Regions from separate parts of the Homo sapiens genome. Here region 2 is linked to region 1. Evidence: fine-mapped expression QTL. Tissue or cell type: whole blood. Region 1 holds a variant in brackets; the other region holds the start of a gene. Each region is shown on its reference strand, or each on the opposite one. Region 1 overlaps CDK6 (cyclin dependent kinase 6). Region 2 holds the start of TLR9 (toll like receptor 9).

Region 1 (5,375 bases):
AGTTAATGCCAATAACCAGTTTGCACTTTGACTTTTTGAACATTCACTTGGATCACATTATGCTAAGCTCTAATGGATAAATATTTAATGGTAATTTTCCTTTCCTTTAAAAGTCATCTGAGATATTTTGTTCATATTCAATACATTGTGATTACATTTTTCTTATGGAACTGCTGTCATGTAATTCTTGAAATGGTATTTTTGTCAGGTTACAGATTAGCAAAAATTTTTAAAAAAAGGTTTTAGAAAGTCTTAAAATATTGGTCAATATAAGGAATCATGCAGTTGTAGCTATTTTCCAGTTTTTTGGGGTTTTTTTGGTTTTTTTTGTTGTTGTTGTTGTTTTTTGTTTTTTTGTTTTTTTTTTTTTTTTGAGATGGAGTCTCGCTCATTGCCCAGGCTGGATGGAGTGCAGTGGCACGGTCTCGGCTCACTGCAAGCTCTGCCTCTCAGGTTCACGCCATTCTCCTGCCTCAGCCTCCCAAGTAGCTGGGACTACAGGCGCCTGCCACCACGCCCGGCTAATTTTTTTGTATTTTTAATAGAGATGGGGTTTCACCGTGTTAGCCAGGTTGGTCTCGATCTCCTGACCTCGTGAGCCGCCCTCCTCGGGCTCCCAAAGTGCTAGGATTACAGGTGTGAGCCACCGCGCCCAGCCTATTTTCCAGTTTTTACATTCAAGTGTTCAGACCTGTCTGGCTCTTTTGTTTTGCAAGTGTAAGGGTTCTAGGTAGCCTAGCCCCATTCCTTATTGATTTATATAAATACATTACAGATTGTTTACCTCTAGCCAAATACCAGGGATTTTAATTCATGCTTAGCTCAGTTGTTGTATATGAAACTCATTTGTTATATTAAAGTTTCTGGCCGGGCACAGTGGCTCACGCCTGTAATCCCAGCACTTTGGGAGGCCAAGGCAGGTGGATCACTTGAGGTCAGGAGTTCGAGGCCAGCCTGGCCAACATGGTGAAACCCATCCTTACTAAAAATACAAAAATTAGCCAGGCATGATGGTGCATGCCTGTAGTCCCAGCTACTCGGGAGGCTGAGGCAGGAGAATCACTTGAACCCAGGAGGTTGCAGTGAGCCAAGATTGCACCACTGCACTCCAGCCTGGACAACAGAGTGAGACTCCATCTTAAAAGAAAAATAAGAATAAAAATAAAGTTTCTGTTTTCTCTTTATTGCCCACCAAAGTGACTATTATTTGATTTGGGGCAATTCCAGAGGGAGTCATTGTAGACAAAAAAAAGCATCATAAATATTATAGTCTAGCATTTCTAAGATTAATGTTTACAACCATTGATTCAAAATGCATTTCCTACCCATTGTGACTAATATAACTGTTAATTTTTAGTACAATGTTTACTAACCATTAATCAGACATAATTTAAGTCAGACAAAATTTCATAGTTTTGGGAAGAGCAATATTTCCCCAGATGTCTTCCATGGAGTACTAGGTCTGTAGGATGTGGATGGCTAGCCAGCACTGGAGCCAAAAAAGAGAGTATCCTACAGGCACCCTTAGGACTCTGATGTCCCTTGATGCCCTTTGTGAATGTCTGAGAAGTCTCTAATATGCTCCATTTCCTGAATGAAGTTAATAATAATGGCACCTTAAAAATTAAAAAGGATTATTTCCTTGAACCTGGAGGAGTCACTTCTACCTAATACCATTTTTTAAGAATATGCAAGTATATACATTAAAATTTATGTGAAAATGTTCTGCTCTATGGACTATTACACATCTCTTTAAAATTCCATGTTTTAAAAACTACCGATTGAAATGAGTCCTTTTTTCTCCAAGGTTTATCATTTAGGACAATTAGTAGTGGCTTCAGTGAGCTCACCTTTCGTATCTTGAGCATCCATTGAAACTGAGGCCTGGAGTCCAGTTGCTGCAGGTGGCATCAGTGAGTCTTAATATTTTGAAGAGAGCAGTATAACTCTGAGGAAAGCAACTTGGGTGGGTTAGATGTTATTTTTAAATTGTGTCATGCAAAGAGTGCTTGAAAACGGTTTCAGTGAGATGAAGCAACAGGGCATACTGCCAGGGTTGTTAGGTAACTTCTAAGACAAC[G/A]GTCCAGGGGGCAGATGACTTTTTGTTTCAGCAGTATTTTAGGATCACTTTATTCTCCAGTTATGCCCCCGTCAGAATTTTTTCTCTTTTGGAAATTACTATAATATCTTATATATATATATATATATATATGATAAACTATAAATGCAGTAAGAACTGGAGTTACTAAAATTACTATTGATTCCAGGTAGTGGTAAGCAATGTAATTTTTTCACTAAATATATTAATTATAATGGGAAATATTTTTAAAGTAATGTTTCAGAAACACAACTGAAATGGTCATAGTATGAAACAGCTCTGTGTTTGTATTTGACTTTAGGGACATGCCATTTTTGGTTCACTGCTCTTTTATTTTATTACAAAAATACAAGCAACAGATATAAAGAAAGTTGGGGATTGTGGAACTCCATTTTCTTTTTCAATAGGAAGAAAAGAGTGAAGTTGTCCAAGTATGTGGATTTAATAGCAATAAGCTGGCTTAAAAAAGCCTGTGAATAGTTGTAGTTATCTTGAATTATCAAGGCAAAAGAACTGTTTTGATAAATTTTCCACATATTAAATCCATGCATGATAGCAATCATATTTTTAGAGTGTGAGACTTAATATGATTTATGGTACTATCTTTAATAAATCTGTTAAGAGTTTTTACTTTATTGGAATAATTTTCCAGAATAAGTAACATTAGGGGAAAATATTAAGTTTAGGAATGGATATTAAAACTTAAAAACCAGAATGTTTAGAAGTAGATAAATGTGAGGAAAAAATTTTCAATGGATTCTGGTTAATTTTAATGGAGTTGTATAATTCACCCCAAACTGCCCATAATTAAAAAGAAGCTTGGATCTGGCTATGAAGCATGTGTAGTTGTTGGTGTTCTGTTTTTTGACCTGCCAGATTTAACCTAATTACAGTGGTGGGGTTTTTTTGTTAAGTGTTTTTTGTTTTTGGTTTTGGTTTTTTTTTTTCGTTTCCTTTAAAATTTAGTATAGATTCACAGAGAAGTCCAAATGTGGGGTCCATAAAGCCCAGAAATGCAGAAGGATGACATGGTGAACCAGCAAGGCATTAAAAGTTTAACAGAGGTCCTAGGAATACAACCCAAAAGGGATGTGAAGGACCTCTTTAAGGAGAACCACAAACCAGTGCTCAAGGAAATAAGAGAGGACATAAACAAATGGAAAAACATTCCATGCTCATGGACACAAAGAATCAATATTGTGAAAATCGCCATACTGCCTAAAGTAATTTATATATTCAATGCTATCCCCATCCAGCTACCATTGACTTTCTTCACAGAATTAGAAAAAACTACTTTAAATTTCATATGGAACCAAAAAAGAGTCTGTATAGCCAAGACAATCCTAAGCAAAAAGAACAAAGCTGGAGGCATCATGCTACCTGACTTTAAACTATACTACAAGGCTACAGTAACCAAAACAGCATGGTACTGGTACCAAAACAAATATATAGACCAATGGAACAGAACAGAGGCCTCAGAAATAATGCCACATGGCTGGGCACGGTGGCTCACACCTGTAATCCCAACACTTCAGGAGGCCGAGGTGGGCAGGTCACCTAAGGTCAGGAGTTTGAGACCAGTCTGACCAACATGGAGTAACCCCGTCTCTACTAAAAATATAAAATTAGCTGGGCGTGGTGGCCCATGCCTGTAATCCCAGCCACTCGGGTTGGGAGTAGTACTTGGCTGAGGCAGGAGAATCGCTTGAACCTGGGAGGCGGAGGTTGTGGTGAGCCAAGATGTGCCATTGCACTCCAGCCTGGGCAACAAGAGCGAAACTCCTTCACAAAAAGGAAAAAAAAACAAGAAAGAATGACACATATCTACAACCATCTGATCTTTGACAAACCTGACAAAAACAAGAAATGGGGAAATGATACCCTATTTAATAAATGATGTTGGGAAAACTGGCTAGCCATATGCAGAAAACTGAAACTGGACCCCTTCCTTATACCTTATACAAAAAGTAATTCAAGCTGGATTAAAGACTTAAACATAAGACCTAAAACCATAAAAACCCTAGAAAAAAACTTAGGCAGTACCATTCAGGACACAAGCATGGGCAAAGACTTCATGACTAAAACACCAAAAGCAACGGCAACAAAAGCCAAAATTGACAAATGGAATAAAATTAAAGAGCTTCTGCACAGCAAAAGAAACTATCATCAGTGAACGGGCAACCTACAGAATGGGAGAAAATTTTTGCAATCTATCCATCTGACAAAGGGCTAATATCCAGAATCTACAGGGAACTTAAAACAAATTTACAAGAAAAAAACAACCCCATCAAAAAGTGGACAAAGGATATGAACAGACATTTTCTCAAAAGAAGACATTTATGAGGCCAACAAACATATGAAAAAAAAGCTCATCATCACTGTTCATTAGAGAAATGCAAATCAAAACCACAATGAGATGCCATCTCACACCAGTTAGAATGGCAATCATTAAAAAGTCAGGAAACAACAGATGCTGGAGAGGATGTGGAGAAACAGGAATGCTTTTACACTGTTGGTGGGAGTGTAAATTAGTTCAACCATTGTGGAAGACAGTGTGGCAATTCCTTAAGGATCTAGAACCAGAAATACCATTTGATCCAGTGATCCCATTACTGAGTATATACCCAAAGGATTATAAATCATTCTACTGTAAAGACACATGCACACATATGTTTATTGCAGCACTGTTCACAATAGCAAAGACTTGGAATCAACCCAAATGCCCATCAATGATAGACTGGATAAAGAAAATGTGGCACATATACACCATGGAATACTATGCACTCATAAAAAATGATGAGTTCATGTCCTTTGCAGGGACATGGATGAAGCTGGAAGCCATCATTCTCAGCAAACTAACACAGGAACAGAAAACCAAACACTCATGTTCTCACTCATAAGCGGGAGTTGAACAATGAGAACACATGGACACAGGGAGGGGAACATCGCACACCAGGGCCTGTCGGGGTGGGGGGGTTAGGGGAGGGATAGCATTAGGAGAAATACCTAATGTAGATGATGGGTTGAAGGGTGCAGCAAACCACCATAGCACGTGTATACCTATGTAACAAACCTGCACATTCTGCACATATATCCCAGAACTTAAAATATAATAAAAAAAATTAACGGAGGTAATATGTAAGCAGGATAATTGATAGTCAACCCTGTGCATCAGTTATTGGACTCTATGCACATTTATAGTTTCTTTGAAGAAGGCATTTATTCAATTTTTTTTAAAAATTAAAGTAATATGAATAGTATTTTATTAGCTTTTTCT
Region 2 (5,375 bases), not on the chromosome of region 1:
GGATGACAGCTAGGAGGCTGGAGCAGGGCCGGCCACGTGTGGACTGTGGGGCTGCCCACCTTCCGCTCCCTGCCACCATCCTCCTTCCTGGGCTCCAGGAAAGTGTTTCTGGGAGGTCAGGAGGGCTGGCAGCTGAACGCACTTGCAGCGTCCGAGGGCCACCGGGCTGGCATTTTGTGACCCTTCCCTGTTGCTGTCCCTGCATCTCGTCTGTGTGCCCAGGGTGTCCGGGGACCCTGCCTGGCTGGCTTAAGGGGGCTGGGTCAGGGGCCTGGCATGAACCTGGCCTCCCGGGGAGCTGAGACTAGGGTCCCAGCACAGCCCAGAAACCTTTGGCCACAAGAAGTGGGGTCAGTCAGGGCTGGGGCAGGGGTCACTGCAGTTTGGGATGGTTGAATGCTGTATTTTCTAAAGAATAAAATATTTTTAAATCAAGACTTGTGCTTGGCCCTGAGAGACCGCCTCTGGCCCTGGGAATTGGGCAGTCTTGTGCATATAACTGTCCTTTCCCAACAGGGGAGAGGGGAGTGCCGGCCTGCGAGGTGGAGCCCCAGCACTCCACCTCCAGGTGTGTGGGAGAGGCTGTGCCTGTGAGTGGGCGTGCAGCCTCACGCGGGTCTCCCAGTCAACAGGAGCCCTGCTGGAGAGGCAGGCGCGCCTCCACTGTGACATGAGGGATCTGCATATGGTCATTTGCTGAGGCTGCCGTAACAAATTACCACCAACTTAGTGGCTTCGAAGAAACTCAAATGTATTCTCTTACAGTTCTGGAGGCTGGAAGACTGAGATGGGTCTCACAGGGCCAAAGTTGAGGTGTTGGCAGGGCTGGCTGTGTCTGGGCCCCTCAGAAGAACCCATCTCCTGGCCTTTTCTGGCTGTATTCCTTGGCTTGGGGCCCCTTCCTCCACCTTCAAAGCCAGAGGTGACATCTCTGATTCTGCTTTCCTCAGCCTCTGGGCTCCCATGGCCTTTTGTAGTCGAATCTCCCTCTGTCTCCATTTCATAAGGGACATTGTAATTGCATTCACCCTCCCTGCCCCCACCACCTACCCCTGTCAAGATGGGTAACTTAATCACATCTGCGAAGTCGTTTTTGCCACACTGTGGGGTGTTGGGGTCACGTGTTTGCAGGTTTGGGGAATTAGGACAAGGATCTCTGAGAGGGACTTTATGCAGCCTCCCACATGGGATAAGGGCTCCTCCTCGAAGGCTTCCCAGCCTCCCTGGGCTGAGGCCAGGACAAGTTTTTCTGTGGACATCGATATCGGTGTCTCCAAGCTGAGTGTGTCCATGTGCGTGGGTCTGTACCTGTGTGTGCAGACCCCTCTGTCAGCTTACTGGCCTCTCTGGTTTTCTGCCTCCAAAGAAGGCAGGGCCACTGCTGGGTATGGGGGTCTGGGTCCCTGGTCCAAGGGACTCTGGGAAAGTCTCAGGCTTGGGGCTCCACAGGAGCCCGAGCTTTGGTGTATCCCTCTGAGAGGTGGATGGAGGGAATGAATGCAGGTGCCTTCCACCCCAGGCAGGCAGGAGTGGAAGCATGGGGTTGATGCCTGCAGCCCAGCTACTGAGTGGGCACTGCTCTCCTTCCTGGCTCAGGGCAACATTCTATCCCTGGCGCCTTTCTGAGCCCCTGCTCAAGCCCCTAGAATTGTAGAGAGGAGAGCCAGACTAGCTAAGACCCAGAGGAGGCTTGTCCTTGCCCAGCCGAAACATTGGCTCCCAGGTGGGCAGGAAGACGATGCCATCGCCCCCTGCTGCTGAGCCAGCCAGATGCCTGGCACTATGGAGCCTGCCTGCCATGATACCACCCAGAGTGGGCCTGGGGGGAGCAGGCTGGCAGATGTGCAGCCTTGCCTCCTCCCAGCAGCAACAATTCATTAATTCATTCATTCAGCCTTCACTCAGAAATACCCTCTCTGTGCCTGCCCAGAGCTGACTGCTGGGTGTACATAATTCAGCAGATATCAAGCACTTACTATGTGCTGGGCACTGTACTGGATCCTGGGGATGCAGATAAAAGATCACTGCCCTTAAGAAGCTGACATTCCAGCAGGGGAATAAGACGATATACAATAAACCATGAAAGATCAATGATCCGGTGTGCTAGCAGTTAAAAAATGTTAGGACAAAGAGAAACATAGACCAGGCAAAGGAGCTCAGGAGTGCCAGATCTGGGGTGGGAGGTTTGTAAGAAGGCTGGATGGCCCTGTTGAGAGGGTGACATGGGAGCAGAGACATAATGGAGGCAAAGGAGGGGTCATATGAGACTTGGGGGAGTTTTCAGGCAGAGGGAACAGCACATCCCAAGGCCCTGAGGCAGGAGAATGCCCAGGGGCTACACAGTCAACTGCAAGCAGGCCAGTGGGCCTGGAGAGCACTCAGGGGAACAGCGGGTGGCAGGTCCCATAGGGCCTTGTTGGCCATCTGTGGACTGTGGCTTTGACTCCAGAGTCAGCCAGGGAGGGGTCTGAGCAGAGGAGGGACCTAGTGTGACTTAGGTTTGAACAGTTCCCTCTAGGGGCTGAATGTGACCAGCCCCTGGAGGGCAGAGAGCAGGGCAGGACAGCCAGAAGGGAGGTGGCACCTGCATGGGTCTAGGAGAGAGGATGGGGGCTGGTGGACATGGGGACGGTGGGCTGTGGGCACACCCTTCAGCATGGTGGACCCAGCAGAACTTGCTGAGGGGCCCGGGGTCACCCAAGGCTTTGGGCCCGAGGAATCTGAGTCTCCTCACCTAGATCAGAAGGAGAGTGGGAAGAACTGATGGGGAGGACTGGCTGGCGGCCCTGCTGGGCCAGCACACACCTGGCCTCTAGGAGCCCCATCTGGAGTGACGTGGTGTGTGCTCTGATGGGGCCCCAGGGGCTCTGGGAATGTGGAGGAGGAGGTCTTGTTTCCGGAAGATGTTGCAAGGCTGTGGTGAAGGCAGGTGCAGCCTAGCCTCCTGCTCAAGCTACACCCTGGCCCTCCACGCATGAGGCCCTGCAGAACTCTGGAGATGGTGCCTACAAGGGCAGAAAAGGACAAGTCGGCAGCCGCTGTCCTGAGGGCACCAGCTGTGGTGCAGGAGCCAAGACCTGAGGGTGGAAGTGTCCTCTTAGAATGGGGAGTGCCCAGCAAGGTGTACCCGCTACTGGTGCTATCCAGAATTCCCATCTCTCCCTGCTCTCTGCCTGAGCTCTGGGCCTTAGCTCCTCCCTGGGCTTGGTAGAGGACAGGTGTGAGGCCCTCATGGGATGTAGGCTGTCTGAGAGGGGAGTGGAAAGAGGAAGGGGTGAAGGAGCTGTCTGCCATTTGACTATGCAAATGGCCTTTGACTCATGGGACCCTGTCCTCCTCACTGGGGGCAGGGTGGAGTGGAGGGGGAGCTACTAGGCTGGTATAAAAATCTTACTTCCTCTATTCTCTGAGCCGCTGCTGCCCCTGTGGGAAGGGACCTCGAGTGTGAAGCATCCTTCCCTGTAGCTGCTGTCCAGTCTGCCCGCCAGACCCTCTGGAGAAGCCCCTGCCCCCCAGCATGGTAGGACAACAGCTCTCAGTCCCCTGGGGAAGGGGATATCCTGGGAAGGGGTGGGGAAAGAAGTGGGCTTGGCAGCTGCAAGCAACAGTGACGGGTTGTCACCCACATGGCCCTGGGGACACTCACTGAATCCTGAAGACTTCAGAGCCGAAGCCCTCTTCTTTTTTCTTTTTTTTTTTTTTTGAGACGGAGTTTCGCTCTTGTTGCCCAGGCTGGAGTGCAGTGGCTTGATCTCAGCTCACTGCAATCTCCACCTCCCGGGTTCAAGTGATTCTCCTGCCTCAGCCTCCCAAGTAGCTGGGATTATGGCTTGCGCCACCATGCCTGGCTAATTTTGTATTTTTAGTAGAGCCAGGGTTTCTCCATGTTGGTCAGGCTGGTCTTGAACTCCAGACCTCAGGTGATCTGCCCACTTCGGCTTCCCAAACTGCTGGGATTACAGGTGTGAGCCACCGTGCCCAGCCACTGAAGCCCTCTTCTGAGCAATGAGACCCAAACCCCCAGAGGGGACGAGGAGACTGAGGCACTGATGGAGCTGGGGCTGGAGCCTGGGTTTGGGTCTCACTGGGCCTGTAGCTTGGGGCTGGCTCTGTCTGGCACTTTGCAGGCCACCCCTCTCTCCATCTGTTCTGACCCATAAGGCAAAGGCTCTCGGGCTAGGTGAGGCAGGCAGAGAGTGATGGAGCTGTGCAGTGCCCTCTGGCCAGGGTCCCTGGGAGGCAGCCGGCCTGGGCCATAGTGGGAGACTCTCACACCTGCCTGAATCTTGGCCGAAGGAAAAGGAAGGGGTTGTGGGGTGGCTGGTGGAGGGCAGAGAGCGGATTTCAGGGCAGCTGGAGGGGAGGGAGCCAGCTGCCACCTTGCTCAGGAGCAGGAAGGGAAAGTCGGGGAGAGACCAGGGGGGGCCGTGGGCCACCTTGCCTGGCCTGGTATAGCCAGGGATTGGTTAAGTGAAAGCTGTAGATCATAAGTCTGGATTCTAGGTCTCAGTCCTGGTTCTGAAGCCTAATTCTGAGTCCAAGACTGGGTCTGAGACTGAGTTCAGGTTCCCCACAAGCCATGGGGGATGGGAATGGGGCTTGGCAGCCAGGAAGAACTTCTGCAGGTAGGGCTTGGAGAGAGGGGTTGGAAGATGCTAGAAGATGCCCATGAAGTGGAGTGGGTGGAGGTAGAGCTGGGGGCCGGCCACTCACACAGCCCTCCCACCCCCACAGGGTTTCTGCCGCAGCGCCCTGCACCCGCTGTCTCTCCTGGTGCAGGCCATCATGCTGGCCATGACCCTGGCCCTGGGTACCTTGCCTGCCTTCCTACCCTGTGAGCTCCAGCCCCACGGCCTGGTGAACTGCAACTGGCTGTTCCTGAAGTCTGTGCCCCACTTCTCCATGGCAGCACCCCGTGGCAATGTCACCAGCCTTTCCTTGTCCTCCAACCGCATCCACCACCTCCATGATTCTGACTTTGCCCACCTGCCCAGCCTGCGGCATCTCAACCTCAAGTGGAACTGCCCGCCGGTTGGCCTCAGCCCCATGCACTTCCCCTGCCACATGACCATCGAGCCCAGCACCTTCTTGGCTGTGCCCACCCTGGAAGAGCTAAACCTGAGCTACAACAACATCATGACTGTGCCTGCGCTGCCCAAATCCCTCATATCCCTGTCCCTCAGCCATACCAACATCCTGATGCTAGACTCTGCCAGCCTCGCCGGCCTGCATGCCCTGCGCTTCCTATTCATGGACGGCAACTGTTATTACAAGAACCCCTGCAGGCAGGCACTGGAGGTGGCCCCGGGTGCCCTCCTTGGCCTGGGCAACCTCACCCACCTGTCACTCAAGTACAACAACCTCACTGTGGTGCC

Evidence for each region. PIP is the estimated chance that this variant, and not a neighbour inherited with it, causes the effect.
Region 2: TLR9 starts here. The variant in region 1 is fine-mapped to the expression of TLR9 in whole blood (TOPMed, PIP above 0.99).

What each region holds. Positions count from the first base shown.
Region 1 is chr7:92,775,762-92,781,136 of GRCh38, reverse strand. The region is part of intron 2 of CDK6 (cyclin dependent kinase 6); the gene reads left to right. Among named protein-coding and RNA genes, the nearest start is that of CDK6-AS1, 58 kb to the left of the region's middle. The variant G/A (reference allele first, on the strand shown) is at 2,081.
Region 2 is chr3:52,223,672-52,229,046 of GRCh38, reverse strand. It overlaps TLR9 (toll like receptor 9), which reads left to right and starts at 3,402. Exons shown (of 2, transcript NM_017442.4): 1 at 3,402-3,520; 2 at 4,735-5,375. The coding sequence starts at 3,518. TWF2 (twinfilin actin binding protein 2) reads left to right here. Exons shown (of 9, transcript NM_007284.4): 9 at 1-435. The coding sequence ends at 13. RefSeq lists enhancers at 2,269-2,768, 2,923-3,012, 2,769-3,270, 3,523-3,622.